Linked DNA regions of Homo sapiens. The protein of the gene in region 4 purifies or fractionates together with the protein of the main gene of each other region. This does not show direct contact. Each region holds a gene or a part of one and is shown on either strand. Other genes may lie near its edges.

The links.
Region 1: the proteins of BCL2L14 (region 4) and TRAPPC10 purify together in Homo sapiens (affinity purification with mass spectrometry; 4 studies listed by BioGRID and IntAct, with this or other methods). This does not show direct contact.
Region 2: the proteins of BCL2L14 (region 4) and TRAPPC9 purify together in Homo sapiens (affinity purification with mass spectrometry; 4 studies listed by BioGRID and IntAct, with this or other methods). This does not show direct contact.
Region 3: the proteins of BCL2L14 (region 4) and TRAPPC6B purify together in Homo sapiens (affinity purification with mass spectrometry; 4 studies listed by BioGRID and IntAct, with this or other methods). This does not show direct contact.

Annotation. Positions count from the first base shown.
Region 1 is NC_000021.9:44,007,962-44,015,331, forward strand, and holds the start of TRAPPC10 (trafficking protein particle complex subunit 10), read left to right. Parts: upstream 1-4,347; 5' UTR 4,348-4,532; coding exon 4,533-4,599; intron 4,600-7,370. UniProt on the Homo sapiens protein: Specific subunit of the TRAPP (transport protein particle) II complex, a highly conserved vesicle tethering complex that functions in late Golgi trafficking as a membrane tether.
Region 2 is NC_000008.11:140,447,729-140,454,755, forward strand, and holds part of TRAPPC9 (trafficking protein particle complex subunit 9), read right to left. Parts: intron 3,656-7,027; coding exon of another isoform or gene 3,646-3,655; coding exon 3,062-3,645; intron 1-3,061. UniProt on the Homo sapiens protein: Functions as an activator of NF-kappa-B through increased phosphorylation of the IKK complex. May function in neuronal cells differentiation. May play a role in vesicular transport from endoplasmic reticulum to Golgi.
Region 3 is NC_000014.9:39,147,310-39,153,356, reverse strand, and holds the end of TRAPPC6B (trafficking protein particle complex subunit 6B), read left to right. Parts: intron 1-1,517; coding exon 1,518-1,611; intron 1,612-2,975; coding exon 2,976-3,007; 3' UTR 3,008-5,543; downstream 5,544-6,047. UniProt on the Homo sapiens protein: Component of a transport protein particle (TRAPP) complex that may function in specific stages of inter-organelle traffic.
Region 4 is NC_000012.12:12,066,626-12,073,947, forward strand, and holds the start of BCL2L14 (apoptosis facilitator Bcl-2-like protein 14), read left to right. Parts: upstream 1-4,313; 5' UTR 4,314-4,512; intron 4,513-4,777; exon of another isoform or gene 4,778-5,030; intron 5,031-7,322. UniProt on the Homo sapiens protein: Plays a role in apoptosis.

The DNA.
Region 1 (7,370 bases), on a different chromosome or scaffold from region 4:
AAGGGCCGGGTGCAGTGGCTTATGCCTGTAACCCAGCACTTTGGGAGGCCAAGGTGGGCAGATCACCTAAGGTCAGGAGTTCAAGGCCAGCCTGGGGAAGACCCCCTGCCGTCTCTACAAAAAATTAAAAAATTAGCTGGCATGGTGGTACGTGCCTGTGGTCCCAGCTACTTGGGAGGCTGTAGTGGGAGGATGGCTTGAAGCCAGAAGACTGAGGCTACAGTGAGCCGTGACTGTGCCCCTGCACGCCAGCCTGGGCGACAGAGCAAGACCCTGTCCCCCCACCAAAACATTTTTTTTCTCTTGATCTATTTCACCAGTTTGAGTATGATATGCCTGCATGTAATTTTCTTTGTATGTGTTCTCTTCAGGTTTTGCTGAATTTCTTGATCTGTAAATCAGTATTTTTCACCACGTGTTTGGATTTGGAGCCATCATTTTGCAAAAATGTTTCCTTCCTAGACTCATACTCTCCTTCTGGAGCTCCGATCACACATGCTTTTGGCCATTTCATACTGTCCCATAGGTCTCTGAGGTTCTCTCCACTTTTCTTCAACTTTTTTCTCTTCTTCAGATTAAATAATTTCTATCCATCTGCCTTCAAGATCCCAAACTCCTGTTTTCTCCAATCTGTTAATCCAATTCAGTGAAATTTTCATTTCTGTTATTGTACTTTTCAGTTCTAGACTTTTCTTTTGATTCTTTTAGATACTTTGTTATTCTGCTGTGAATTTCTGATTCTTTACTCATTAAGACAATATTTTCATTTAATCCTTTGGACATATTATTTTTATTTATTTTGAGATGGAGTCTTGCTCTGTCACCCAGGCTGGAGTGCAGTGGCACTATCTTGGCTCACTGTAACCTCCACCTCCCGGATTCAAGCGATTCTCCTGCTTCAGCTTTCCGAGTAGCTGGGGCTACAGGCGTGCGCCACCACACCCAGCTAATTTTTGTGTTTTTAGTAGAGATGGGGTTTCACCATGTTGGCCAGGCTGATCTCAAACTCCTGGGCTCAAGTGATCTGCCCACCTCGGCCTCCCAAATTTCTGGGATTACAGGTGTGAGCCACCGTGCCCAGCCTCCTTTGGACATATGTAGAGCTGCTTTAGAATCTTTGTAAATACAGAATCTGGTTCATTGTAGGGGGATTGGTTTCTGTTAACTGCTTTTTTTTTTTCTTAACTATGGCTTACGTTTTCCTCTTTCTTTGTATGTTTAGTGATTTTTGTTTTTTTAGTGTATATTCAACACTGATAAATAACAAATGAGGGAGACTCAGGGTGCTCTTCCACTGAAAAATCCTGACTTTCGTTCTAGTTTGTAGTTCCATTACTGGACGTACCATGCTGGGCTGTGTAGGCTTAGCTTTAGGCTCTGTTTACTGAGCAATGTCCCAGGTGTCTCCCAGGCCCCTCTTACTTGGCAGGACTTAACCTCCAAACTCTGACCGTCTTGTGGATCGGGTCAGGGTTTTGCTTTAGACGTTGTTAAGGCGGGCCTGGAGTAGTCCTTATTCTAGGGGAGGGACTGGCAACCTCTGGCTCACAAGCCACATGTGTTGATGGCCTGTTTTTGTACAGCACTTAAAGCCAGGAATGGCTTTTATATTTTTAAAGAGTTGTTTAAAAAAAAAAAAAAAACAAGCAAAAATATGAAACAAAAACTGCATGTGGCCCACACAACCTAAAATACTTATCTGGGCCCTTTATAGGTCGTTTGCTGACCCCTGGGAATGTGATTCTCAATCTAGTGTCTCAGCTCAATGTCCTCAGTGTTAATGGCATTAAAAAGGTCTTGACTGGGCACGGTGGCTCGTACTCGTCATCCCAGCACTTTGGGAGGATTAGGCAGGAGGACTGCTTGAGGCCAGGAGTTCAAGACCAGCCTGGGCAACAGAGTGGGACCCTCTCTCTACAAAAAAAGAAAAAATTAGCCGGGCGTGGTGGCACTCACCTGTGGTCCCAACTACTTGGGAGGCTGAGGTGGGAGGATCACTTGAGCCCAGAAGTTCTAGGCTGCACTGAGATAACGATCAAACCACTGCACCCCAGCCTAGGTGACAGAACAAGACTGTCTGAAAAGAAAACAAAACGGAAAGTCCTTTCCTGTAGCACTACTGGACCTCTAGTCTTTGTGCCATCCTCAACTCTGTAACAGCCGCTTCCTGGTAAACCCATAGAGTCGTCCCACACGTGTAGTCCAGCCTAGGCCAAGGACTTTCAGGGAACCCTACATCGACTTCGGCTCCCCACTCTTGCTAAGCTTCTTCCCCTCCAGTGCCCTGCCTTGCCGGCCTGCTGCTTTAGCTGCCCAGAAGTCTGGTCTCTTGCCTCTCACACCATTACAGTGCACCACACTACACTATGTTCACACATTTAGCAGCTGTGTTCACACCCAAACTATCTCATATATACATTTTGTTAAAAAAAACTTCAGGACTCTCTAAACTTATGATGCCAAGGGTGAAGTTAAGCCCTGGAGACTGAGTCAGTAGCAAGTTTGCAATTCTGCTTCTTCGATTACAGTTTAATGCTCTTCCTCCTTGTTCTTGAGCACAAGTGTCTTCCTCATTGTGGCTGCTCTGTAAATCAGGGCTCCCCGACCGCCAGGGCCACAGACACATACCGGTCAGGCCACACAGCAGGAGGTGAGCTTCAGGCCAGGGAGCAAAGCTTCATCTGTATTTACAGCTGCTCCCCATCGCTGGCATTACCGCCTGAGCTCCGCCTCCTGTCAGGTCAGCAGCAGCGCTGGATTCTCCTAGGAGGGTGAACCCTGTTGTGAACTGCACATTGGAGGGGTCTAGGTTGCGTGCTCCTTATGAGAATCTCATCCCTAATGATGTGTCCCTGGCTTCCATCATCCCTAGATGTGACCGTCCAGTTGCAGGAAAACAAGCTCAGGGCTCCCACTGATTCCACATTATGGGAAGTTGTATTTTATTACATATTACAACATAAAAATAATAAAGTGCACAATAAATGAAATGTGTTTGAATCGTCCTGAAACCACCCCAACTTTGTCTGTGGAAAAACTGCATTCTATGAAACTGGTCCCTGGTGCCAAAAAGGTTGGGGACTGCTGCTGTTAATGACTAAGAAAGACCAGGTCTCCCCCTTCCCATTTGGTGATTTTTGTTACAGATTAGCTGTCTCCATTGTCCTGTACCTGACTTAGACCAGACAGCACAGAGACCCCAGGACTGTTTCATCTTCAGTGGGTCCCCAAAGAAAAAGACCACCTCGACTAAACAGACTGTTGTAACTATGCATTAGGCCTTATACAGAAAAGACGCTGAAATTCGGTTAGGCTTCCCGAGACGCTGGCTATAGAAACGACCCCAAATTTCTACGTTTGAGAACACTGACTTCCATTCTTTATAATGTTTCCTGGGCGCCTCAAGCTTCGCATTTGACTAAACTCTAGATTCTGACCCTTTTGATTATTTTTGGTTGACAGTTTTTGTCATTTTATGGCTGGGAGTGATGGCTCACACCTGTAATCTCAACACTTTGGGAGGCCAAGGCTGGAGGATCACTTGAGCCCAGGAGTTTGAAACCAGCCTGGAAAACATAGTGAGATCCCGACAAAAGAAAAGAAAAGAAAAAAATTAGCTGGGCGTGGTGGCTGCCCCCGTGGTCCCAGTTACTGGCGGAGGGGGTGGGGCGGGGGGAAACAAGGCGGGAGGATCGCTTGAGCCTGGAAGGTGGAGGCTGCAGTGAGCCGTGTCCCGCCACTGCACTCCAGCCTGAGCCAACTGAGGAAGACCCTGCTCCAAAGAAAAAAAGAAAAAGAAACACCCGCGCCCCGCCCCCCCCGTTTACGTGCACAAGAAGCCCATATGCAGTTAAGTGTGAGGTTTATTTTGTGGCATTCCGAAATGCCGAGGGCCAGGTCCCCACAAAAACATTTGCGGCGTGAGGGAAACGGGAAGAGCCCAGCGGTAGGCGGAAGGCACGCGCCGGGGACACTCAGCGGCGAGGGCCTGCGGGAGCCCCCAGCGCGATAAGGAGCCCGGCCGGGGAGCAGCGGCCCGCCGCGGGACGCCCGAGCTGCGGGGAACGCGAGGGCAGCGAGGCCGGCGTCTCTGGTCCGGGAGCGTCCAGGCTCGCTCACCGCGCGCGAGGCCCGCCTGCCGAGTCCTGGCCTCAGCTCCGGCGCAGGGCCCAGCGGGGCGCCCACTGCCGAGGGAGGAAGATGGACGTGTCCCGGGAGCCCCGCTCCGCCTCCCACTTCCCACCTCCCGGTCCCGCGCGGCCGGCCCGGGCGCACTTCCGTCGGAGGCGAAGCGCGGCGAAGACCCGCCCCGTGAAGCCTCGCGCGCCCCGGAAATGGTCATGCGGCGGCGCCGAGGCCGGAAGTGGCTGAGGCCGGCAGCAGCGGGCGGCAGCTGCGGCGCAACCGGCTCCGGAGCTGCCTGGCGCGGCCGGGCGGGCGGCGCCGCTCAGGCTCGGGCTCCGGCTGGGCCCGGCGCGGCCTCGGGGCTGCCCATGGGGCGCGGGGGGCCGGGCCGGTGACGCCGGACGCCCATGGACGCCTCTGAGGAGCCGCTGCCGCCGGTGATCTACACCATGGAGAACAAGCCCATCGTCACCTGTGAGTGCCCGGAGGCGGGGAGGGCGCGGCGGTCGTTGGGCGGGCCCGGGCCCTGGCGTTATGCACCCGGCGCCCCCAGACCTTCAGCCCCCGGCGCGCTCCGGGCTGGGCCGCTTCCTGGAGGTGTGACCAGGGCTGCGGCTGAGGCGGGGCCCTCTGACTTTTCGGGGACGCCCTCTGACCTTCCCGCCGGGCGACCTCTGACCCCTGGGGGGCGCCCTCGGGCCGGCTGCAGTTGGAGCCGGTGGAACCCGGCGGACTCTGCCCGGGACTGGGCGCGCGCCGGCGTCGAGGGCGAGGAGCGGGGGCTGCCACCGCCCCGTCCCGCCCCCGTTGAGCCGCGCGCCCGGGACCTGGGGGCCCCGGCCTCTTCCGCCGGGCGGTTTTGCCCGCGGGCGCCCTTTCCCCGACTACGGGGAAGTCCTTGGGGGCTCGCAGAGTTGCAGGCGTTGGCGAAGTAGGAACAGTTTGTTGCGGGGTGAAGCGTCAGGCAGAGCCGCCGGGACTGCTTTCGCTCCTACACACTTCCCCGCCGCGCACTCAAACCATTTTACGGATGAGAAAGCCGAGGCTCGGGCGCTTAGGCGAGCTTGCTCCCCATGAACAGCCTCCCGCTCGAGTCTACACTACGGACACCTGGTGCCTCTTGGGTGTCGTGTCCTCCCCGCACCCCTCCTTTAATGCATACACAAAGGAACTGTTTTTCTGTTACGGGAAAAATGTTCCCTAAATTTTAGAAGTGTGACTCTCCAGAGTTAAATACGGTTAAGAACAGTGAGCTTATGGGAAGTATTGAAATGTTTGTTGGTTGGCTTTTAGGTGACTTGCAGAGAGGTGTTTCAGACTGTTACGATTTTTGACCTTTGACAGTATTCTGTATTTTCATGCATGTATGCAGTTAGTTTTTTTCTAGTTGTCTTTCGTGCTTGGAAAGGAAGCACTCTCTGTTGCAAAATCTGGGTGCCCAGGCCACAGTAGACTGTATGTCGTGAGAACTCCTGTTTCCCTCTCACTCTGTCAGCGGGTGTGCACCTGCTGTGTTCCTTCCTGTTAGATCCCTGAGAAACTGTATATTGAAGGTTGAATTTTGTTGCTTCAGCTTTAGGTGATAGACTTATTTCTTTCCTTCCTTTTGCTTTATTTTGTCTCTTCTCCTCTCCTCCTCTCTCTTTTTTTTCTACAGAGACCTAGACGAGATGATAGACTTTTCTTAGGGAAGTGGACTGTGTCTCATTTAAAATTGGAGACTTGCATAGTTCAGCAGTAGCTGTCTTTTTTCCTCCCCAGAATATTTGTCAGCTGAAAGTCTTTTCCTACTCTGCACCTTCAGCCCCAGAGGGCAGATGTGGGTAGAGCTGGTCTGCAGGCCCTGCAATTTCCCAGGGGCTTTCCCAGTGCTCAGGGAAGATGAAGCCATGCGCAGTTCATGTTAAGTTTTACTGTCTTCCAGAGGTTGAACATTTTTCTCCTAAAGTGCTGTGCACGTTGTGAATGCTGGATACACATTCATTGCCTGTACGGACATCCACACATCTAATTTTATCTTCTACCTCCTAGCTTGCTTACATTTCAATAGCAATATGTATTTATAGGCATTATGTAAATACATTTCTGAGGAGAAAGTTCCTAAGCTCTATTGGATTCAACCATAACTAAAGGGGTAAAGTTTGTTATCTGGTTGCCAGTGTTGGAGATATTTAATGTTTAGTTTTGTACATGCGTGCATCACGGACAGCTGAAGGATGCGGTTTTCTTTCCTACAGATTTATTGGATTGTCATCTTGGTGGTGGGTTTTTTCCTGTGTTTTGAGCAGCAGAGTGAATTTTTTTTTTTCCTTCTTCTTCTTTTTTGAGACGGCGTCTTTCTCTGTCGCCCAGGCTGGAGTGCAGTGGCATGATCTCGGCCATGATCTTGGCTCACTGCAACCTCTGCCTCCCGGGTTCAAGCGATTCTCCTTCCTCGGCCTCCCGAGTAGCTGGGATTACAGGCGCATGCTGCCATGCCCGGCTAATTTTTTGTTTGTTTGTTTTTGTTTTTTTTTTTTTTCAGTAGAGACAGAGTTTCACCATGTTGGTGAGGCTGGTCTCGAACTCCTGACCTTGGGTTGTCCACCTGCGCAGCCTCCCGAAGTGCTGGGATTACAGGCTTGAGCCCCCACCCTTGGCCTCAAGCAACATAGTGAATGTTAATCTCTGCATGGATGGTACACTGTCCTAGAAGGTGCAAACTTTCATTCATTGGAGTCTCAGAAGAGAAGGGGGCTTCAGTAGACTGTCAAAGTTAACTTGAAAAATGATCACTTTAAAAGTGAAGGTAAAAAGCTGACTTCATACTTCCCACTTGAAATTATGTTGTGGTATATCTGGGACTGAAGCTTTAGGAAGCACTTGGCCTGGTTTCACTTTATGCCTTCATCTTGCTCCTCTCTTTCAGCTATACATGTTTTGAAAGGAGAAGGTGGTATGAACAATTGCTTTAAAAAAATCCACCCAGAGGCTAATTAACCCTTAACTTTTTAATATTATGTACATAGTTCTCTTAGTAGGCAACATTTTTGTTTTCAAAAATCTTTTAAATTCTTACTTGAAATGGTATTACCTCAGATCTGTTCATTTTAAAATGAAAGTAGAGTTTATGCATGTTGTGAATTTTTTTTCCATAGAATGTATAATATTTTACTTCAGTGAAAATGCATTCTGCTTAGACCTTTCTGGGAAGAATATAGAATGTAACTGGTTCAGGTGAATTTAAAAACTGTGTATATGTAGGG
Region 2 (7,027 bases), on a different chromosome or scaffold from region 4:
ATCTGGACATTTCCTGTTGAGCTACAAAATACCACCCCATTTCAGGTTGGACACTTCCTCACTCCTACCAAGAGCTGCAGGGGAGACAAGGCTTTGTTCCTGCACCAAAGCATTCCTTCAAAAATTAGAGAACCAGCCAGGCACTGTGGCTCACACCTGTAATCCCAGCACTTTGGGAGGCCGAGGCAGGTGGATCACTTGAGGTCAGGAGTTCGAGACCAGCCTGGCCAACATGGTGAAACCCTGTCTCTACTAAAAATACAAAAATTAGCTGAGTGTGGTGGCGCACGCCTGTAATCCCAGCTACTCAGGAGGCTGAGGCACAAAGAATCGCTTGAGCCCAGGAGGTGGAGGTTGCAGTGAGCCGAGACTGCACCACCACACTCCAGCCTGGGTGACAGAGCAAGACACCATCTCAAAAAAAAAAAAAAAAAAAAAATTAGAGAACCATGGAGAAACAAAAGCAACAACAGGTTACCCATTATGAGAGGAGGATGTATTTGATTTGAGTTCACTGGTGTCATTATCTCACTGAAGTTCAAATGCTAACTGATGTCTAATTGCGGCTGTCCCACTACAGTGAGCAAGCAGCTTTATGTGCCACTGTATTTTCAGTGCCTGGAGCCATGCCTGGCATATGAAGGCTCTAACAAACACTTGTCAGTCCTTATCCACTATGCGTGACGCACTGCGTCACAGCACACTCCCGCTCCTCCTGCAGAGTTGTGAGCTCAGATTTCAAAAGGCAAAAAAGACCTGGCATTTGAAGGTGGATCTGCAACCTCACAGCCAAGAAGTGGATGACTGAAAAATGTCACTGATGCCCATGTGGCAAAGGAGGAAGGCATGAGTCAAGGGGTCAGAGCAGGATTCCTGACCCATGCTGCCTGTGAGCTTCAACCCCTCACCCCTTCTCTGTAAAGCAGGGGCAGGCCACTCCCTGCCGACCTGGCAGGTGGCCGCCAAGCTGTGCACACCATACAGCAACACCTTATCAGGGATGACTCCCACAGTGCCTGCTGGCTGGACAGCAGTGTGCGCTATTCACGAGGCACAGGAGGCGCAGCAGAAGGCAACAAGGTGAGGTAGAAAGGCCCCGGGCCTCAGAGACAGACCTGGTGCTTATATCAGCTCTGCTGCTTGGTGGCTGCCCGGGTCTCTAAACCTTGCTGCCTCAGCCCCACATCAGCCAGCACAGCAACCCCGTGTAGATCACAGGGCTGCCGTGAGGATTAAACACAGAGCAGGTCTACAGCATGCCTTTTCCTTTCCTTAAGCCAAATATGCACATTTGGGTGAAGAAATGAAAATTCCTTCCTTCCAGACCCTGCAAAGCACCACAGGCAGGTGCGACTGAGGCTATTCCATGCTTCCAACTCTGAGGGCTGGATTTAAGACTACTGTGTCTCAATTCTGTGATCATCTCTCCTCATACTTACCAACAACCAGAACGACACCGTGTGACCTTAGATAAATTTCAGAAACATACTGAGCACCTACTTTGCAGCAGGCACTATGGTGGCATGCACCTTACATCACTGAATCCTCACCTGTGGCTCATCAGCCAATCCTATACAGGAGGAGGGAGAGCCCTGTCCAAGCCAGGAGGCCAGTGACTGACACAGTGACACATCACTTTCCCTGGCAAATGGGGACGCCCTCTTGGCAAACAGCTGCTGCCTAGGCTTGCATCTCATCCAGCTCTGCAGAACAGCCACCATGGCAAGACACAGCAGCAAGCAGAGAGTGGAAGGAAGTGGCAAGGAAGAGCTCATCTGCAATTTTGATTTGAAATAAAGTTTTTGACTTAATAACAGGCAAGATGGGAAGCTGACCTTTTCCTGCTCTATCCAACACTCCTTGTACACAGAGAGAACAGACATACTTTTCATTTGTATACGGTAGCTGTTTAGGAGCTCCCAGGTGGTATTTCTGGCATCCTGATATCCATGCTTGGCTGCTTTGTAAGTGAGGAATTCGACACTGTGGCCATCAGGAGGGAAAAAGTAGCCACATACGCAGGGTGCACAGCCTGGCAATCCGGAGACGTGGGCTCTACTTCTAGCTCAGCTAGGACCTAGCCCTTACCTCTCCAGATTCACCCTCTCATCTGTGAACCAAAGGGACGAGACTGAATAAAACTGTTCAAACTGTGCTCTAGCACAGTGCTGTCCAACAGAAATAAAATGCAAGCCACGTAAGTACATTTCAGTTTCTAGTTGCCACATTTTTAAAAGTAAGAATGAAACAGTTGATACTGATTTTTAAAATATAGTTTATTTAACCTAAGATATGTAAAATACTATCATTTCAACATGTAATCTGTATAAAACATATTAGCAAGAAAGTTGGCCAGGCACAGAGGCTCACACCTGTAATCCCAGCACTTTGGGAGGCCAAGGCAGGCAGATCACTCAAGGCCAGGAGTTCAAGACCAGCCTGGCCAACGTGGCAAGATCCTGTCTCTATTAAAGATACAAAACTTAGCCAGGCATGGTGGCACCTGCCTGTAGTCCCAGCTACTTGGGAGGCTGAGGCATGAGAATCACTTGAACCCGGGAGGTGCACGTTGCACTGAGCCAAGATCGCGCCACTGCACTCCAGCCTGAGAGACAGAGTAAGACTCTGTCTCAAAAAAAAATTAGCAAGAAAGTTTATTTTTTCAGAAGTAAGTCTCAAAATCTGGCGTGGGTTTTATTCACAGCCCATCTCAACTAAAACTAGCCTCGTGTCTAGTGCCCAAAAGCCACAACTGGCTGTGGCTGCTGTATGGGACAGAGCTCCAGGAGTCCCACGAGGGGAGCCCCACTAAAAAGAGGGGAGTGTACAAGACAACTCTAAAGGACTCCCCCAACCAAAGGCTGTCTCTGTCTTTAAAAGTCACTGGTTTTTGTTTGGTTGGTTTTTTTAGCAGCACTCAAACAGATTCTGACAGAAAGTCATTAGTTTTAAAAACCAATGGACAACACCTTTCTACTCCTTGCTGCAATGAAATTCTGCCCTGTGCTTTCCCTTTCTGATGCAGGGAAGCCAAGGGGCCTGGGTCTCTAGGTAAGCTTACCTGCTGTCTGTGTCCAGTCCTACAAAGTCCTTTTTCTCAAACGGGACACAGAGAAGGGGGATCTTATCCCCAGACTTGTCTGTGGCTCTGTCCAGACGCTTGGACTCCAGCACGATGAACAGTGACTCGATGAAGTCCTCGATTCTCTTCTCCACCGTCTGGCAGTCCTCGTAGTTGGGGTAGAAAGCCACGTCGGTGCGCGGCTGCTCCACGATCTCCCCCTGCAGCCCGAAGACAAAGAGCCGGGAGTCATACAGTGTGGAGCCGTAGATCTCCTTCTGCACGTGGAACTTCTCAAAGGTCTGTGGCCAGTCCTTGGCCGAGAAGCAGTCTGTGATGGTGATGAGGCCCACGACTTTGCGGTGGGTCTGGAAGTCACCCCACTCGTTGTTCTCGGGTGGGTAGTGGTGCCTGTAGCGGATGTAGAGGACTCGCTGGGAGTCCCGCACGCTGATCTGACTCACAGAGCAAATCCTCTTATAGATCCTGAAGAAGTTCTCCTCGGAGACGATGCCCACAGGCTGGACCACCACGAGCAGCGTCTGGTGGTCCTCAGCACACTGCATGTAGTCAGGGACGCTCATTTTGAAGTCCCTGTTCAGAGAGAAGAAATGAGGCTGTGAGACACAGAGTCCTGAGTGCTGAGAGCCTACCCTGGGAGGCAGTGACTGTGACCTTCACTACCCAGAGGCAGGGGAAGCCCCAAGGAAAGCCGTGGCATCAACAGGTCTTAGGGCTCTACACGTGGCTGTCGCAGCTCTGATCATAATGCTGTAACTGTTGACCTTCAGTCCCTTGGCCTCAGCATGGAGCTTCTACAGAAATGGGGCTGTTTCTTGTCTTTCTATTCTCACCACCTAACCAGGAGTAGTAAGAGTCAGTGCTCAAAAATGTCTGTTGAGTGAATGAATAAACACGTGTGTAATTGCTCCCCCATCCCCTCAACAGGATATTAAGAAAAATCCACCATGCAATCACATCTGGATTTGAATTCCGGGCTCCCTGGAACTCCTCAGCTACAAAATAGTGGTGATAATAGAACTTGTCTTGGCCGGGCATGGTGGCTCATGCCTGTAATCCTAACACTTTGGAAGGCCGAAGCTGGCGGATCACTTGAGGTCAGGAATTCGAGACCAGCCTGGCCAACATGGTGAAACCCCACCTATACTAAAAATACAAAAATTAGCCGGGTGTGGTGGCACGTGCCTGTAATCCCAGTTACCCAGGAGGCTGAGGCAGGAAAATCACTGGAACCCGGGAGGTGAAAGCTGCAGTGAGCCAAGATTGCGCCACTGCACTCCAGCCTGGGTGACAGAGTGAGACTCCGTCTCAAAAAAAAAAAAAAAAGAGGCGGGGCGCAGTGGCTCACACCTGTAATCCCAGCACTTTGGGAAGCTGAGGCAGGCAGATCACAAGGTCAGAAGATCGAGATCATCCTGGCTAACATGGTGAAACCCCATCTTTACTAAAAATACAAAAAATTAGCCCGGCGTGGTGGCAGGCACCTGTAGTCCCAGCTACTTGGGAGGCTGAGGCAGGAGAATGGCATGAACCAGGGAGGCAGAGCTTGCAGTGAGCCCAGATGGCGCCACTGCACTCCAGCCTGGGCGACAGAGCCAGACTGCATCTCAAAAAAAAAAAAAAAAAAAAAGAATTAAAAGAAAAAGAACTTGCCTTATAAAACTGTATCTAGATTGAGGAGGTTGCGAATGTAAAGGGCCTAGCATTGTGCCTAACATAAAAGGAGAGATTACACAAATATACCACCTTTCCTTTATAAATGGGAGAGTTGCCATAACCTCTCTGAGCCAATTTTGTCAGATATAAAAAGAAAACGTTATTACCTGATTCCCCAGAGCTGGGGAAAAATTAAATTAGATGACCCACGTGAAAGAATCTGGCTCATAGGAGATCCTCAATACATGTTTGTTGAAGGGATTAGTGAACAAACAAACAAATGAACAATCCAATGAATGCTGCCCCCAGCCTACAGACGGTCATGATGGAAATCCCACTGCCTGGAAGTCAGGGCCGATATTCAACTCCCAGCTCTACACGCACGATCTGGGTGACCTGGAGCAAGCCTGTGTGCTTCCCTGAACCCTAGTTTCATTGTGAATAAAAATGAGGATAGTAACACATACCTCAAGGTGTCAGCAAGTCAACATTCTGGTTGTGATAACATACTGTGGTTTTGTAACATGGCACCACGGGGGGAAACTGGGCAAAAGGTATATAGGATCCCTCAGTATTATTTCTGACAAATGCACATGGAGCTACAACTACTATAGTCTCAAATAAAAAGTCTAATTTTTTTAAAGGTTAGGGAGATTAAATGAGCTCTCTGTATCAAATAAGAAAAAGATGCCTCGATACACACCTCCACTGTCCCCATCAGTGGGCTGACACTTCCTGAGGGGATTTGGCCATGGTCCCCATGGCCAGAGGCAGCTGTACCATGAGCTAATGGGGTTCAGCTTCAGGCCCCTTCCATGGCCCTCTATCTAATTTTGCATTTTTAATTTTGTTTTCTTTTTCTTAAATAGGAAGCCCAAAACTGCATAACCTTCAGGTCACCAAAGCCTGACTGCAGAGATCGTGGCAGTAAAACCCTCCCAGGTGACACTAAGATTAAAGTGACATTGCTATAAGACCTCTGTGAAATTCTAATGGCAAGCTTCTCACCTGCACGGAGAGGAGGAGGACTGTGTGTCGGGGGCTATCCTGGACATCACAACCCCACCTCTACAGACTTCAAAAATACACATGGATAGAGAAGTATGAACAAAATTAAATTTTAAAAAAAGGAAACCCTAGCCTCCCAACATGTCTTGCTTCTGCCCAGGATCTAAACGGTTCACAAGTATATTACATGTGTGTGACTCAGCCCAAGTCCCTGACTCCAGTGCTCACGCTCTCAAGGACGACGCCCCACTCTCTCCTGCCCTTTCCCCACAACGATTCCCTAAAGAGTCTTTTCTGCACACAAAAACCACCTTCGAAAGAACCAAAATCACATCACCTTCCAACAAAGAGGCATAAAACCCCTCGGAGGACATATCAAAATACTGAGCGGGGGAGACTGGAGCGCTCATGTTTCTCAAAAGTAGGCACAGGTTTAACAGAAGCTGAGAAACACCGAAGCCTTCATTCTACAGAGGAGGAGAGCGCGGCCCACCGCAGGTAACAAAGGGCCTTATTTTAGAAGTATCATCTCGGCCAGACACGGTGGCTCACACCTGTAATCCCAACACTTTGGGAGACAGAGGCGGGAGGATCACTTGAGGTCAGCAGTTAGAGACCAGCCTGGTCAACATGACAAAACCCCATCTCTATTAAAAATACAAAAATTAGCCAGGAGTGGTAGCACACACCCGCAGTCCCAGCTACTCCAGAGGCTGAGGCAGGAGAATTGCTTGAACTCAGGAGGTGGAGGAGGCAGTGAGCCAAGATCACAACACTGCACTCCAGCCTGGGTAACAGAGCGAGACTCCATCTCAAAAAAATTAATAAATAAAAATGATTTAAAAATAAAAACTATCGTCTCATCTAAAAAGCAGCATAATCAGCCGGGTGTGGTGGCTCACACCTGTAATCCCAGCACTTTGGGAGGCGGAGGCAGGCAGATCACTTGAGGTCAGGAGTTGGAGACCAGCCTGACCAACATGGAGAAACCCGGTCTCTAATAAAAATACAAAAAATTAGCCAGGCGTGGTGGCGCATGCCTGTGATCCCAGCTACTCAGGAGGCTGAGGCAGGAGAATCGCTTGAACCCAGGAGATGGGGGTTGCAGTGAGCCGAGATCACGCCACTGCACTCCAGCCTGGGCAATAAGAGTAAGACTCCCTCTCAAAAAAAAAAAAAAAAAAAACACAACCTGACCTCACACCTGTGATCTCAACACTTTGGGAGGCCAAGTCGAGTGGATCGCCTGAGGTCAGGAGTTCGAGACCAGCCTGGCCAACA
Region 3 (6,047 bases), on a different chromosome or scaffold from region 4:
TGCATCCGGCCTGATTGCCTATTTTCTATATTTTTGGGGTATCCAGGCTCTAATTACATTTTTATGGTTAATGTGTATATTTTCTCTCTTTTTTTTTTTTTTCGGACAGAGTGTGAGACTCACTGCAACCTCTGCCTCCTGGGTTCAAGTGATTCTCCTGCCTCAGCCTCCTGAGTAGCTGGGATTACAGGTGTGCGCCACCATGCCTGGCTAATTTTTTGTATCTTTAGTAGAGACAGGGTTTCACCATGTTGGCGAGGCTAGTCTCAAACTCCTGACCTCGTGATCCACCCACCTCAGCCTCCCAAAGTGCTCGGATTACAGACGTGATTACAAAAGCCACCCAAAATGCTGGGATTACAGCCTCCCAAAGTGCTGGGATTACAGACGTGATTACAAAAGCCACCCAAAATGCTGGGATTACAGCCTCCCAAAGTGCTGGGATTATAGGCCATGCCTGGCATATTTTCTCTTTTTTACTAACTTCTTAGTTTAATATTTCTGGTTCTCACTTAACTTTTTGGGATCTTGGTTTCTTCAGCTGTGAAAAGAGTAAGTTGGACCAATTCAGTGATTTCTAACTATTTTGAGTTATGGACATCTTTGAGAACTGGAACACCTTTCCCCATAAATACGCACATATACATGGTTTTTATTTTCATAGGGGTCACAAATTCCCCGATTAAGAACTCTTGGGATGAACAATCTCTAAGGCCTCTTCCAGCTTAAAATTTCATGACTCAGATCTAGTTACTTATTAGTGCCCATTTATGTATATTATTTATAAGATAATATTTTATATTATTCGTAGATAATGTAGTATGTTGAACATCATGCAGTATAGATGTGGGTAATCAAAAATTCCCTGAATTGCTAATTTTTCAATCCAGTTCTTGTCATGACTTTTGGTTTTGTAGCTCAGCCCTATTCCCTTTCTTTGTTTCTATATGACAGGGTTTCTCAACGTCCAAACTGTTGATACTTTCAACCAGATAATTCTTTGTTGTGGCAAGCTATAAGTCTTGAACAAGTCAAGATTCTTGGTTGTAAATAGGGGAAAGAAATTCTGCTTGTAAGCTAACAAAATTGATAAGCTCAAAGAATAGGCAATAACCAGGGGAGGTTAAGGCAGCCAGTAAGATAGCCAAGTCACTCTGCAGACTGTATCTACTTAGAATCCTGCAGGCAGCAGGGACTGTAGACACAAACTACCTTTACTGCCTCCAGAACTAATTCTGATCAGTTTCTGGCTTGTTTTTGTCACTGAGTCTAGATTCACAGTCCTGGACTGGAGTACTTAATTGGCTGAGCTTAAGTCTTAAGTCCTACGTCCATGCTTTAGTTTCCAGGGAGCTGGGAAATATATCAATATTTTTCAGTAATTTGAACAGTTCTTCAAAATCCTTTTTTTAAACAGGAATGACTTACTGATGATAAATCATGTAATGTTGTATTTATCAATAGCTTTACTATTTTAGTAAATCCTTACTATTTTTAATGATTTTTTTTCCTTTTAGTATTTAGCATTTACGTGTGGCTTAATCAGAGGTGGCTTATCAAACTTGGGAATAAAAAGTATTGTAACAGCTGAAGTGTCTTCAATGCCTGCTTGTAAGTTGAATTCGCCTTTCTTACAAATGTTTTAGTAATTTGTTTTCAGGTCTGTTTTTTTTTTTAATTTAACTGAGAGGAAATTTAAAATGCTGAAACTTTCATTTTAGTTTTATCAATGTAACACTTTAGTGTAGTAATATGTAGCATACTACATTCATTTTCAGTAATTTTTGAATAATGGACTAAAATCCAAATTTATAAGACAATTTAAGGGATGATTTTTAACTTTTCTAAAGTTATTCAAACTGTAACTTTTTTAAAGATATTCTTCTGAATATCTCCTGCAGTGTTTTAAGATAGCAAATTTCCCTAGAACATTGAAAATGCTATTTTTTTTTTTTTTTTTTTTTTTTGAGACGGAGTCTCGCTCTGTTGCCCAGGCTGGAGTGCAGTGGCACAATCTCGGCTCACTGCAAGCTCCACCTCCCGGGTTCACGCCATTCTCCTGCCTCAACCTCCCGAGTAGCTGGGACTACAGTTGCCTGCCACCACGCCCAGCTAATTTTTTGTATTTTTAGTAGAGATGGGTTTCACCGTGTTAGCCAGGATGGTCTCCATCTCCTGACCTTGTGATCCGTCTGCCTCGGCCTCCCAAAGTGCTGGGATTACAGGCATGAACCACCGCGCCCGGCCCGAAAATGCTATTTTTAAACAATTGTTTAGGATATGTCTATTATATCAAGCTAAGTAAAACCAAATATTCTTTTATCACTAAATGTCTCCCTAAAGATCTTTTCACCAGAGCTACCAACCAAGAAAAAATGGACTTGAGCTTTATTGTATTTCTTTTCAATTTACAATGATCATTAGCCATGAAATACTGTACCCAAATGTAGGATTCATAAAGAGAAACAAAAGTGCTTACTCAACAAACCATATAATCATCCCATAAAAATAGAATTGACTGGCCGGGTGTGGTGCCTCACACCTGTAAGCTCAGCACTTTGGGAGGCCGAGGTGGGCGTATCATGAGGTCAGGAGTTTGAGACCAGCCTGGCCAATAAGGTGAAACCCTGTCTCTACTAAAAATACAAAAATTAGCTGGGCGTGGTGACAGACGCCTGTAGTCCCAGCTACTCAGGAGGCTGAGGCAGGAGAATCACTTGAACCCAGGAGGTGGAGGTTGCAGTGAGCAGAGATCGTGCCACTGCACTCCAGCCTGGGCAACAGAGCAAGACTCCATCTCAAAAAAAAAGAAAAAATAGAATTGACTTTATTGAATATTATGAAGAATGCGAAAAAGTTTTTGACATAGCAGATTTCTTGACTGAAACTATTTCCTATATGGAACAGAAAATTGATGTTTAGACTTGTTTTCTTTGTATCTAAAATCAAAGAATTATTTGTATTTTTTTTTTTAGGCAAATTTCAGGTGATGATACAGAAGCTGTAGAACATACTGAAATGCAAGGCTTCAACAGTGTAAAGAGATAAATTATTCATGTAAAAGTATTTCAAGTAGTGATGATTTAATTACATTGTTCGATGTTTGTACAGGAGTAAGCATGTATTTTTATCAATTTAACACAGATCAAAGGAGATGAAGGGACATTCTGCCATGACATACACTTAACCAAAACTATTCAAAATGAAAACCGGATTTCAAATAACCAGACACCAAGATGCAGGGCCCTTATTTTAAACCTTTTTATTTGGTTAGAGTGATATGTATTTAGCCATAGATGGAGAAACAAAGCTCAGGGTTTGTTGAATTAGCATGAGAGAAAATTATGTACCAACAGAATTATTTGTGAGAAGAATGAACAAATTTTGATAAAGTATGAATTTGTTTTATTTTAAAAAGCAAACATACTAAATTTTTTTTATTTTATTGCTTATAATTTATTAAGAATGTTTACACCTGTATAAGGATTTCATATATACATTGTATGTGTGTATATATAAATACATATATGACTGCCTAAATTGTTTATAAATTTAATTTTTCTTTAATAGGTTTCATTCCTTCAGAGCTCCATTAATGTAATCAAAATGAAATATAGATTAGTTTAAATGTGAATTCAGTGACTCTAGGGCCAAAGAATATTAGGTATGTTTGGAAAGAATTTTTGTATTTATTCCTGTTACAGTTTTGACTTTCAACTTCTCTCCCCGTGCATGGAAGTCCTGGTAAAGGATCTAACATCTTTATTCCCTTCTTTCCTCTTCCAGCTGAGCAGAGTTGGATAATTGAATTAGTCATTCTGACATTCTTTGGACCATATCATCTTAGTGGTTTGGGGTCAGTGCTCATCTGATATATCTTTCTTACCACCTCTTCTACTTACTTTCTCTTACTTAAATTATCTGGCATAAGCAGTTATCTCCAGCTTTTGTTAGAATCTTGCATGTTGATTACTAAAACTATACTTTGTTTCCCATTTATTTATTACCCTTTTGCATGTATTTGTGTGACAGGGAACTCTGCAGCAGGGGGTGACTGACACACCAAACAAGATGTTTCACTGGGTACTCTGCCATAGAAATGGCAGATTAAGAAGATTGACTATACCAAACATTATATTAAAAACACAAAATAAAAACTATAAAAATGTACTTTAGGACATTAAAGAAAACTCAAGTTAGAAGCATACCATTTTCCTTTCATGGAAGGGTACAGTATTACAAAGATAATTTGTTTAACTTGATTTATTAAATTCTAGTTATGTGCCCTATAATGATGTTTCAGTCAGTGACAGACCTCATATATGGCAGTGGTTCCATAAGATTACAATACTGTATTTTTACTGTACCTTCTTTATGTTTAGATATGCAAGTACTTACCATTGTGTTACAGTGTCCTACAGTATTCACTACAATAATATGCTGTACAGGTTTGTAGCCTAGGAGCAATAGGCCATAGCTTAGGTGTATAGTAGATCATACCATCTAGGTTTGTGTAAGTACACTCTGTGATTGTACAATTTTAAAATCTCCTAATGATGATGCATTTCTCAGAATGTATCCCCTTTGCTAAGCAATGCATGACTGCAATCCTAATTCTCACATGTTTTGGGGAAAAAATTTTAATTTTGAAAAAATTTAGGAAAGTTCCTACCAAATATACATGTATAAAGTTTATTAAAAGTCATAATGACCCAGGAATAGCTAATGACACAGAAGTAGATCAAAATAGAACACAATAGAGAACTTCAAAATAAAACAGGTGTGAGAATTGTGTGTGTGAAAAAGCTGGGTTCAAATAAGTTGGTTTGTTAGACATTCATATGCCTACCCATCAGCCATTTCGTTCTCCCTTCCTTGCTGACAAAGCCCCATTTTTTTTTTCTTTTTTTTTGGCCTAAAACTCTGTATGGCTGCCTTGTGCTATAGAATAGGGTGCTTCCCTAGCCTAGAGAGGGTGAGTGTTGATTAGATTCTGTGCCAATCATGGTAATTGGCTTACTTGATCATTTGATGGAATCTAGGCTAACGAGACAAAGGAAGTCTGAAGGCTTTGAATAAGAAATTTTCTGTTGCTCTTAACAATTGATACAAGTTAGGGATTTGCCAGCATCCCTCTTCTGCTTCTCAGTGAAGATATGTGATATGGATGTTTGAAGCTAATCTGCAACAGCCTTCTGATGGCCATGAAAGGACAAGTATGGAGATGAAAGCTATCACACTGAGAATAGTGGGATGTAGATAGAAAGCACCTGAATTGTGCTTCTGAATTAACCAATCCAGGAACTGCTTTACCTTTGGACTTTTTGTTATGTGAGATATTCTTTATATTGTTCCATTTGCTTTGGGTATATGTATATTGTTACTTGTAGCCAAAAAGAAACCTCTCTTAGTAGAAACAAAGGGAGAGTTAGGTTATTCAAAAATTAGTATGGGACAATTGAATATGCCTTTTTCTGCGGGAGTAGGTGGGGAGAAACTTAAAGGTTCACTTGTAAAACAATAAAGTACTAAAGAAAATGTGATAATACTTTCGTGATTTTGTGGTGGAGAAGGCCTTTCCAACACACAAATGTAGGAAATCATAAAGGAAAACTATAAAACAAAGAAATGTAGTAAAATCTCTTCAACAAATAGTGTTGGGAAAACTGGACATCCACATACAAAAGAATGAAATTGGATTGTTGCCTTAATGCCATACATAGAAATCAACTTAAGGCCGGGTGTGGTGGCTCAAGCCTGTAATCCCAGCACTTTGGGAGGCCGAGGTGGGGCAGATCATGAGGTCAGGAGTTCAAGACCAGCCTGGCCAAACAGTGAAACCCTGTCTCTACTGAAAAAAATACAAAAATTAGCTGGGTGTGGTGGTGGGCGCCTGTAGTCCCAGCTACTTGGGAGGCTGAGGCAGGAGAATTGCTTGAACCCGGGAGTCGGAGGTTGCAGTGAGCCAAGATGGAGCCACTGCGCTCCAGCCTGGGCGACACAGTGAGACTCTGTCTCCAAAAAAAAAAAGAAATCAACTTAAAATG
Region 4 (7,322 bases):
AGAAAATGTGAGCAAAGATGAAAAGCTCTACCCTGCAGCATTATTTGTAACAGTAAGCACTTGAAGACAAACAAAACATTATTATTATTATTTTTTTTTTTTTTTTTTGAGACAGAGTCTCGCTCTGTCGCCCAGGCTGGAGTGGCGCAATCTCGGCTCACTGCAAGCTCCGCCTCCCGGGTTCACGCCATTCTCCTGCCTCAGCCTCCTGAGTAGCTGGGACTACAGGCGCCCACCACCATGTCTAGCTAATTTTTTGTATTTTTAGTAGAGACGGGGTTTCGCTGTGTTAGCCAGGATGGTCTCGATCTCCTGACCTCGTGATCTACCTGCCTTGGCCTCCCAAAGTGCTGGGATTACAAGCATGAGCCACCGCACCTGGTGACAAACAAAACATTTAAAAATAGTTGGCTGGCTGATTATTTGATTTGATTTGATTTTTATTTTGATTTTTTTGGAGACTGAGTCTCGCTCTGTCACCCAGGCTGGAGTGCAGTGGTGTGATCCCAGCTCACTGCAACCTCTGCCTCCTGGGTTCAAGTGATTCTCCTCTGGATGAATATTTTTAGTGCTATCATTCACTGGAATGATGTCGCCACTAAAAAATTTTATTTACAAAATAAGTTTATTAGAAGTTATGATGGCTGGACGTGGTGGCTCACACCTGTAATCCCAGCACTTTTGGGAGGCTGAGGCAGACAAATATCTTGAGCTCAGGAGTTGGAGACCAGTCTGGCCAACATAGTGAAACCCCGTCTTTATTAAAAATACAAAAATGAGCCAGGCGTGGTGGCACATGCCTGTAATTGCAACTACTCTGGAGACTGAGGTGGGAGAATAGCTTGAACCCGGGAGGCAGAGGTTGCAGTGAGCCGAGATCGTGCCACTGCACTCCAGCCTGGGGAACAGAGTGAGACTCTGTCTGAAGAAAAAAAAAGAATCATCCTGACTTTCCTTATAGAGAGGGGGAGGGCAGAGAGTTTGTCCTGTGTCTCCTTTTTCTCAAAGAAAAGAAGGGACGTCCACCAAATTTTTAGCAGCATTTCCCACTGAATGACTGCATTATGGCAATCCTTATTATGACCCTGTTTTACGAGTTTTCTACAACAGCATGTCTATGTTTACAATCGGGAGAAAAGTGGTTTTTGCTTTTGCTGTTTAATATCTAACATGTGTTGTGACCTGTCCCTGGCCAACTTGTTAGGCGTGGAGATAACATAGTTGAATGAGAGGTGGACAGTTGCTCTCCTCAGCTTCCGTGTGGGGTTTGCCCCTTCCCTGTGTTAATAGTTGCTTTACCAAAACCTTTCAGGACTTTTTTTTTTTGAGACAGGGTCTGGCTCTGTCACCCAGGCTGAGTGCAGTGGTGCCATCATGGCTCATTGCAGCCTCAAGCCCCCGGCCCCCTGCCAGGCTCAAGCAATCCTCCCGCCTCAGTCTCCTGAGTAGCTGAGACTACAGGTGTGCTCCACCACGCCCAGCTAACTTTTTATTTTTTTGTAGTGATGGGGTTATCACCATGTTGCCCAGGCTGGTTTCAAACTCCAGGACACAGTCTGTCCTCCTGCCTCAGCCTCCCAAAGCGCTGGGATTGCAGGTATGAGCCACTGTGCATGACCAAGACTCTTCAGGATCCTAAATGGTTTCAGCAACAAACATTGTTTAGTTATGTAACTCAGAACTCCAGTATGGACATACTATGTGATGTGATTTTATTATTGCTTATATGCTTTTGTGGTTTTATTGTTTGTTTTTCTGTTTGTTTGTTTTGAGACAGGGTTTTTGTTTTTGTTTTGAGACAGGGTCTTACTCTGTCACCCAGGCTAAACTACAATAGCATGATCCTAGCTTGCTGCCCCCTTGAACTCCTAGGCTCAAGCAATCTTTCTGTCTCAGACTACCAAGTAGCTAGGACTACAGGCATGTGCCACCATGCTATGTTGTCTGGCTGGTGTTGAATACCTGGTCTCCAGTGATCCTCCCACCTCAGCCCCCTGAGTAGCTAGCACTACATGCGTGAGTCATGCCTGGCTAATTAAAAAAAAAAAAATTAAGAGATGGGGTCTTACTATCACAGCGTGAATCCCAAAATTGGGGTTCAGTCTGGGAGGCCACATGGGTTCTTGGCTTCCCACAAGAAGGAATTCAAGAGTGAGCCAACAAAGTAAAATGAAAGCAAGGTTATTAAGCAAGTTAAGGAATAAAAGGGGGGCTACTCCATAGGCAGAGCAGTGGCATGGGCTGTTTGATTGAGTATACGGGTATTCCTTGATCATATGCTAAACAAAAAGTGAATTATTCGTGAGTTTTCTGGGAAAAAGGTGGGGAGTTCCCAGAACTGAGGGTTTTCCCATTTCAGACAATATAGGGTAACTTCCAGACATTGCCATAACATTTGTAAACTGACATGGGGCTGGTAGGAGCGAGTGTCTTTTAGCACAACAGTGCATTATCATTGGCATATAATGAGCTGTGAGGACGACCGGAGGTTGCTTTCATCGCATCTTGGTTTTGATAGATTTGGGCTGCTGCTTTACTACATGTCATTTTATCAGTGGTGTCTTTGTGACCTGTACCTTGCAAACCAGTCCTGAAGAACTCTTGTCTCATCACTGTGTTGTCCAGGCTGGTCTTCAAGTGATCCTCCTGGCTTCAGAGTGATCCTCTCACCTCAGCATCCCAAAATGCTGGGCTTGCAGGCTTGAGACACTGAGCCAGACCCTGTTTATTCTTGAATTGTTTCCAGTGAATATATCTCATCGTCTCCCCCCAAAAAAAGGTTGCAAGTTTTTGGCCAGGCGCGGTGGCTCACGCCTGTAATCCCAGCACTTTGGGAGGTGGAGGCGGGCAGATCGGGAGGTCAGGAGATCGAGGCCATCCTGGCTAACACGGTGAAACCCCGTCTCTACTAAAAATACAAAAAAAAAAAAAAATTATCCAGGCTTGGTGGCGGGCGCCTGTAGTCCCAGCTACTTGGGAGGCTGAGGCAGGAGAATGGCGTGAACCCAGGAGGTGGAGCTTGCAGTGAGCCAAGATCGCACCACTGCACTCCAGCCTGGGCGACAGAGCAAGACTCCGTCTCAAAAAAAAAAAAAAAAAGGTGGCAAGTTTTTATAAAAAGAGAAAAATCATTCTTAGTATTTCTTTAATACCCTCTACATTGACCTCACTGGTGCAAAAAATATTAGTTTGCTGGTGAAAATTCACCTCGAGTTACTAAATATCTAACTTTCCCATAACTACCATCTGTTTGTCTCTTGTGGATCTGTTTGCCTAATATTTAAATGACCCATTCTTCCCCACTTTTACGAAAATAGCATTAATTCCCCTTTCACTATTCACACTTCCTTCATCGTCACAGTTTGACCAGCGGTCCAGGGTTTATGATCTCAAGCATGGCCATATATATCTATTTCACTTAAGACTCTGGAAAGAGCATAAAATCAGATGTAACTGTTTCCTATTTCATATAATAGGGAATTCCATCTCTAAAGTTATGACATTTGGCCTTTCAGTGGGTTTTTGTGGTTTTTACTATGGCTGTGCTTAGATTCCTTTTTGAACACTTTTCCAGTGGTTCCACTTGAACACAATCTTTGAGTCACATAGGAGAGGTGACATGATAGAGTGTAAAGCCAGAAAGAGCACGATTTGGATCTCAGCTCAACTGATAGGGATCCGTAGCAAGATACTTCACCTCTCTGAGCCTCAGTTTCCTCATCTGTGCAATGGGAATCGTAACGCCTGCCTCTCAATGTTGTTAAGATTAAATATGTTGGCCGGGCGCAGTGGCTTACGCCTGTAATCCCAGCACTTTGGGAGGCCGAGGAGGGCAGACCACCTGAGGCCAGGAGTTCGAGACCAACATGGTGAAACCCCTGTCTCTACTAAAAATACAAAAATTAGCCAGGCGTGCTGGTGCAAGCCTGTAATCCCAGAAACTCAGGAGGCTGAGATATGAGAATCGCTTGAACCCAGGAGGCGGAGGTTGCAGTGCGCCAAGATCGCACCACTGCACTCCAGCCTGGGCAACAGAGTGAAACTCTGTCTCAAAAAAAAAAAAAAGATTAAATATGTGTACAGTACCTGTACCATGTTAGGCGGTCAGTAAACATTTGTTTAACTAACAACTGATAAGGATAGTAAAGAAGTATCAGAACACCCACCTAGTTATCCCAAAGGGCAGGAAGAGTGCTAGGTAATGGATATAGAATTCCTTTTAGAGTCAAATTACACGGGCAAAGATCAGCCCCTCCTTCAATTAAAAAGCCAGGGGCAGGGCGTAATAAGGAAGTGGTTCTCCTTCTTTAAGCCTCTTTTCAGGCTGAGTCCTAAACCTGAAGAAAGTTTAGAGCCTGGGGCTCTAAACTACCTGAGTCTTTCCAAACGACAAGCCAAGAAGACCTGTTGAAAGTTTCCTCTTAAGTTTCGTGGAGAGAGACTCAGGTATAGAAATATCCTTACTGCCACCTGACCTGAAGCAGAAGAAATCACAGACAGCTTCCAGACCAGGTAACACCAGGAGGCACCAGTCTTCATCCTCAGCCTTTGCAGGAGGACACAGCCTGGTCTTTAGCTGTTTGCCAAATGAGGCAGTCTAATTCAGGGAGCTCTTTACTGGGTTTATTACAAAGTTCTTATCATGTAAGTCTCAGGACACAAAATGACATTGAGAATCTAGTTTAGCGGGGTTTCCAGGAAAGACGAAGAAAGGTTATTTAGGTTTCTCTTTCATTTCTCTTTTGCTACAAAGGGTTTGGGACATTCAGTTAAGAACACATTACTGGTTGAGGTATGTGACGTTACTCAGTCTTCTCTGCTTATGTATCTGGGGAGGTATGCAATGACATGACAGCCATTCCGTGGCCAGGGACACCACTGCCCAAGCTGGAGACCACGAGGATTCAGGGACTGAAGCCAGCATGGGAATTCCTGGTTTGAGATCAGAGTCCTGAGTACCTCGTGGGAACTTGGGCACTCATCCGCAGGAGGTCTAGACCCCCAGAGAATTCCTTGAGTCTAAGGCACAGGTAAATGGAAGACCCTTCTCTCTCCTCTCTCCCCTCTAGAAAGCTCCCTCCTCCCTGAGCTCCCTGTCCCCTTCTTTCCACAATCAGAGCCTCGGACCTTCTGTTTGGTGAATATGACCTGAGGCTCTGTCTAGCATTCAGCTTCTATTGTGGGAAGTTAAGGCACTTTCTCTCATTCCTCATTTCACCTTTAGTATTAAAGAACAGTCCAGGCAGAAGGCACGAAGAGCCTGAGAGGTCTGAAGTGAGGGGGAGAGGAGAGGGGCAGAAGGGGAGGCTCCGGACAACAGAACCAAGCTGAGCTTAGGATGTGCTGTGGGAGGCTCCGTGGGGATGAGTGTCAGTGCCCACGAGATCCACTCAGGCCTCAACTGTGTGTCCTGAGCACATGAAGTCAGCTCTTCTGCTGGGACAGCCACCAAGGGATTCTCCACACCCCTCACCGCTGGGACAGGCAGAGGCACAGCGAACCAGGTGTCCAGCGTAACTGGGGCACTGGGTGGTGGCCGCCTCTGTGTGTGGAAACACGAGGTGCTTGCTGCAGTTTCCTCTGTGTGCTTATCCGTTAGCTGCCACCCACCGGGAGGGAAGTGAAATCTCACCTCAACAAGTGAGTCCGCAGAGCGAGAACCGTGCGACAGTGCGTCTGCCAATACCTGGAATGTAGGTGTTCGTTGCAGTGTGGCCTTCCCAGCCGGCCTCTCAGCACACCCGGCCAGGCAGCCAGTGTTCCCAGAGGACACGCTGGGGCCAGACGTGGAGGACCCCGGCCACCTCGGGGAGGGAAAGAGACCAAGAAAAGAACCTCTGTAGCCTTGCTTCTGAGAGTGCAGGTTTGTTACAGGTAAGGATCAGGAAGGTAAACATAGGGCAGTGAAGCAGGGTTGTGTCCTCTGCGGCCCTGAATTAGAATAAGCCTCACAGGTCTCACCCAGGAACGGAAATCTCCCCTCCAGGTTCTGAACCAGCATTCAGAGGCCCCACCCAGGGCTTCTGTCAACATAAGCATAAAACTTATGGTTTACCTTTCCATAAACCCCAAAGTTGGGCTTCTTGTATAGAGTACAATTTCTGTAGGAAGAGCTGAAAGCAGAAGGGATCTAACCTGTGATAATACTCGATCGCTGCTGCTTGAAAGTAAGACTTAGCTATACACTGAACAATCAAGTAATTTATAACAAGGATTAGAGGAAACAAAAACTCTGTGTTTGTGTGGGTGGGTTTTTTTTTTTCTTTATTTTTGTTTCTTAAGAGAGTGTCTCCCTCTGCCACCCAGGCTGGAGTGCACTGGCGCGATCATAGCTCACTGCAGCCTCCAACTCCCAGGCTCAAGCGATTCTCCCCCCTCAGCCTCCCAAGTGGCTGGGACTGCAGGTGCACACCACCACGCCCAGCTAATTTTTTTCATTTTTTGTAGAGACGGAGCCAAGGCTGGTCTTGAACTCCTGGGCTTAAGCGATCCTGCTCCCTGGGCCTCCCAAAGTGCTGGGATTACAGGCGTGAGCCACTGGGTCCGGCATCTACATTTGTTAAATACATTAAAACCCTCTTAATCCTTTGTCTCCGTTTGTTCTCTTTTGCTCCCTGCTCTCCAGGCTCTTGTGGCGGAGGCCCCCGCTCCCTCCGCTGTAGGGTAGCCTCCTTCTGGGGCTGGCTCCTGAGCACTGTTCTTTCTCCTCTCTCTCATCCTCTCTCATTCTTAGCTTTGCCTGTCGACTGGGCCAAGTCACAGCCTTTCTGGCCTGTAAGACAACAAAAATCTCACATTTTACTAAATGGAAGGACTAAGTACTCTGTCTTGACTTCAGTGGTTTCCCCGATTTCTGATGTTGCTGCTGAAATAGCATTAGCAAGCTTGTTTCTTAAAGAAGCCCTCTCTCCAGTGACAATACTCCCCCCGCCACACACACACACATGCACACGCACACACAAACATGCATGCACGCGCACACACACACACAATTTTAAAGCCCTCGTGTTATATTAAAAAGGTCTGGATGTTTTTAACATACATGGAAATTTCTTCAGCAGCACAGTGTTACTGGTCTGACGAGGGCGCACAGCCTCCTACCCAAGGACACAGTTCCTGAAGGACCAGGGTGCACATCTGGCCTGCAGTGCCCTGAGCCACTCTGTCCAAAAGGAAGCCTTGAATCAAAAGCCTCATGAATCCTCTCCTGAGAAATTCCATGTCTGGTCTCTTGCTAGACTCAGCCTTTTCCCCACCAAGTCTGCCGCACCTAATTCTGACCTCACCCTGCTTGGTGGCCCGCTTTGCCTGCTTGCACGCAC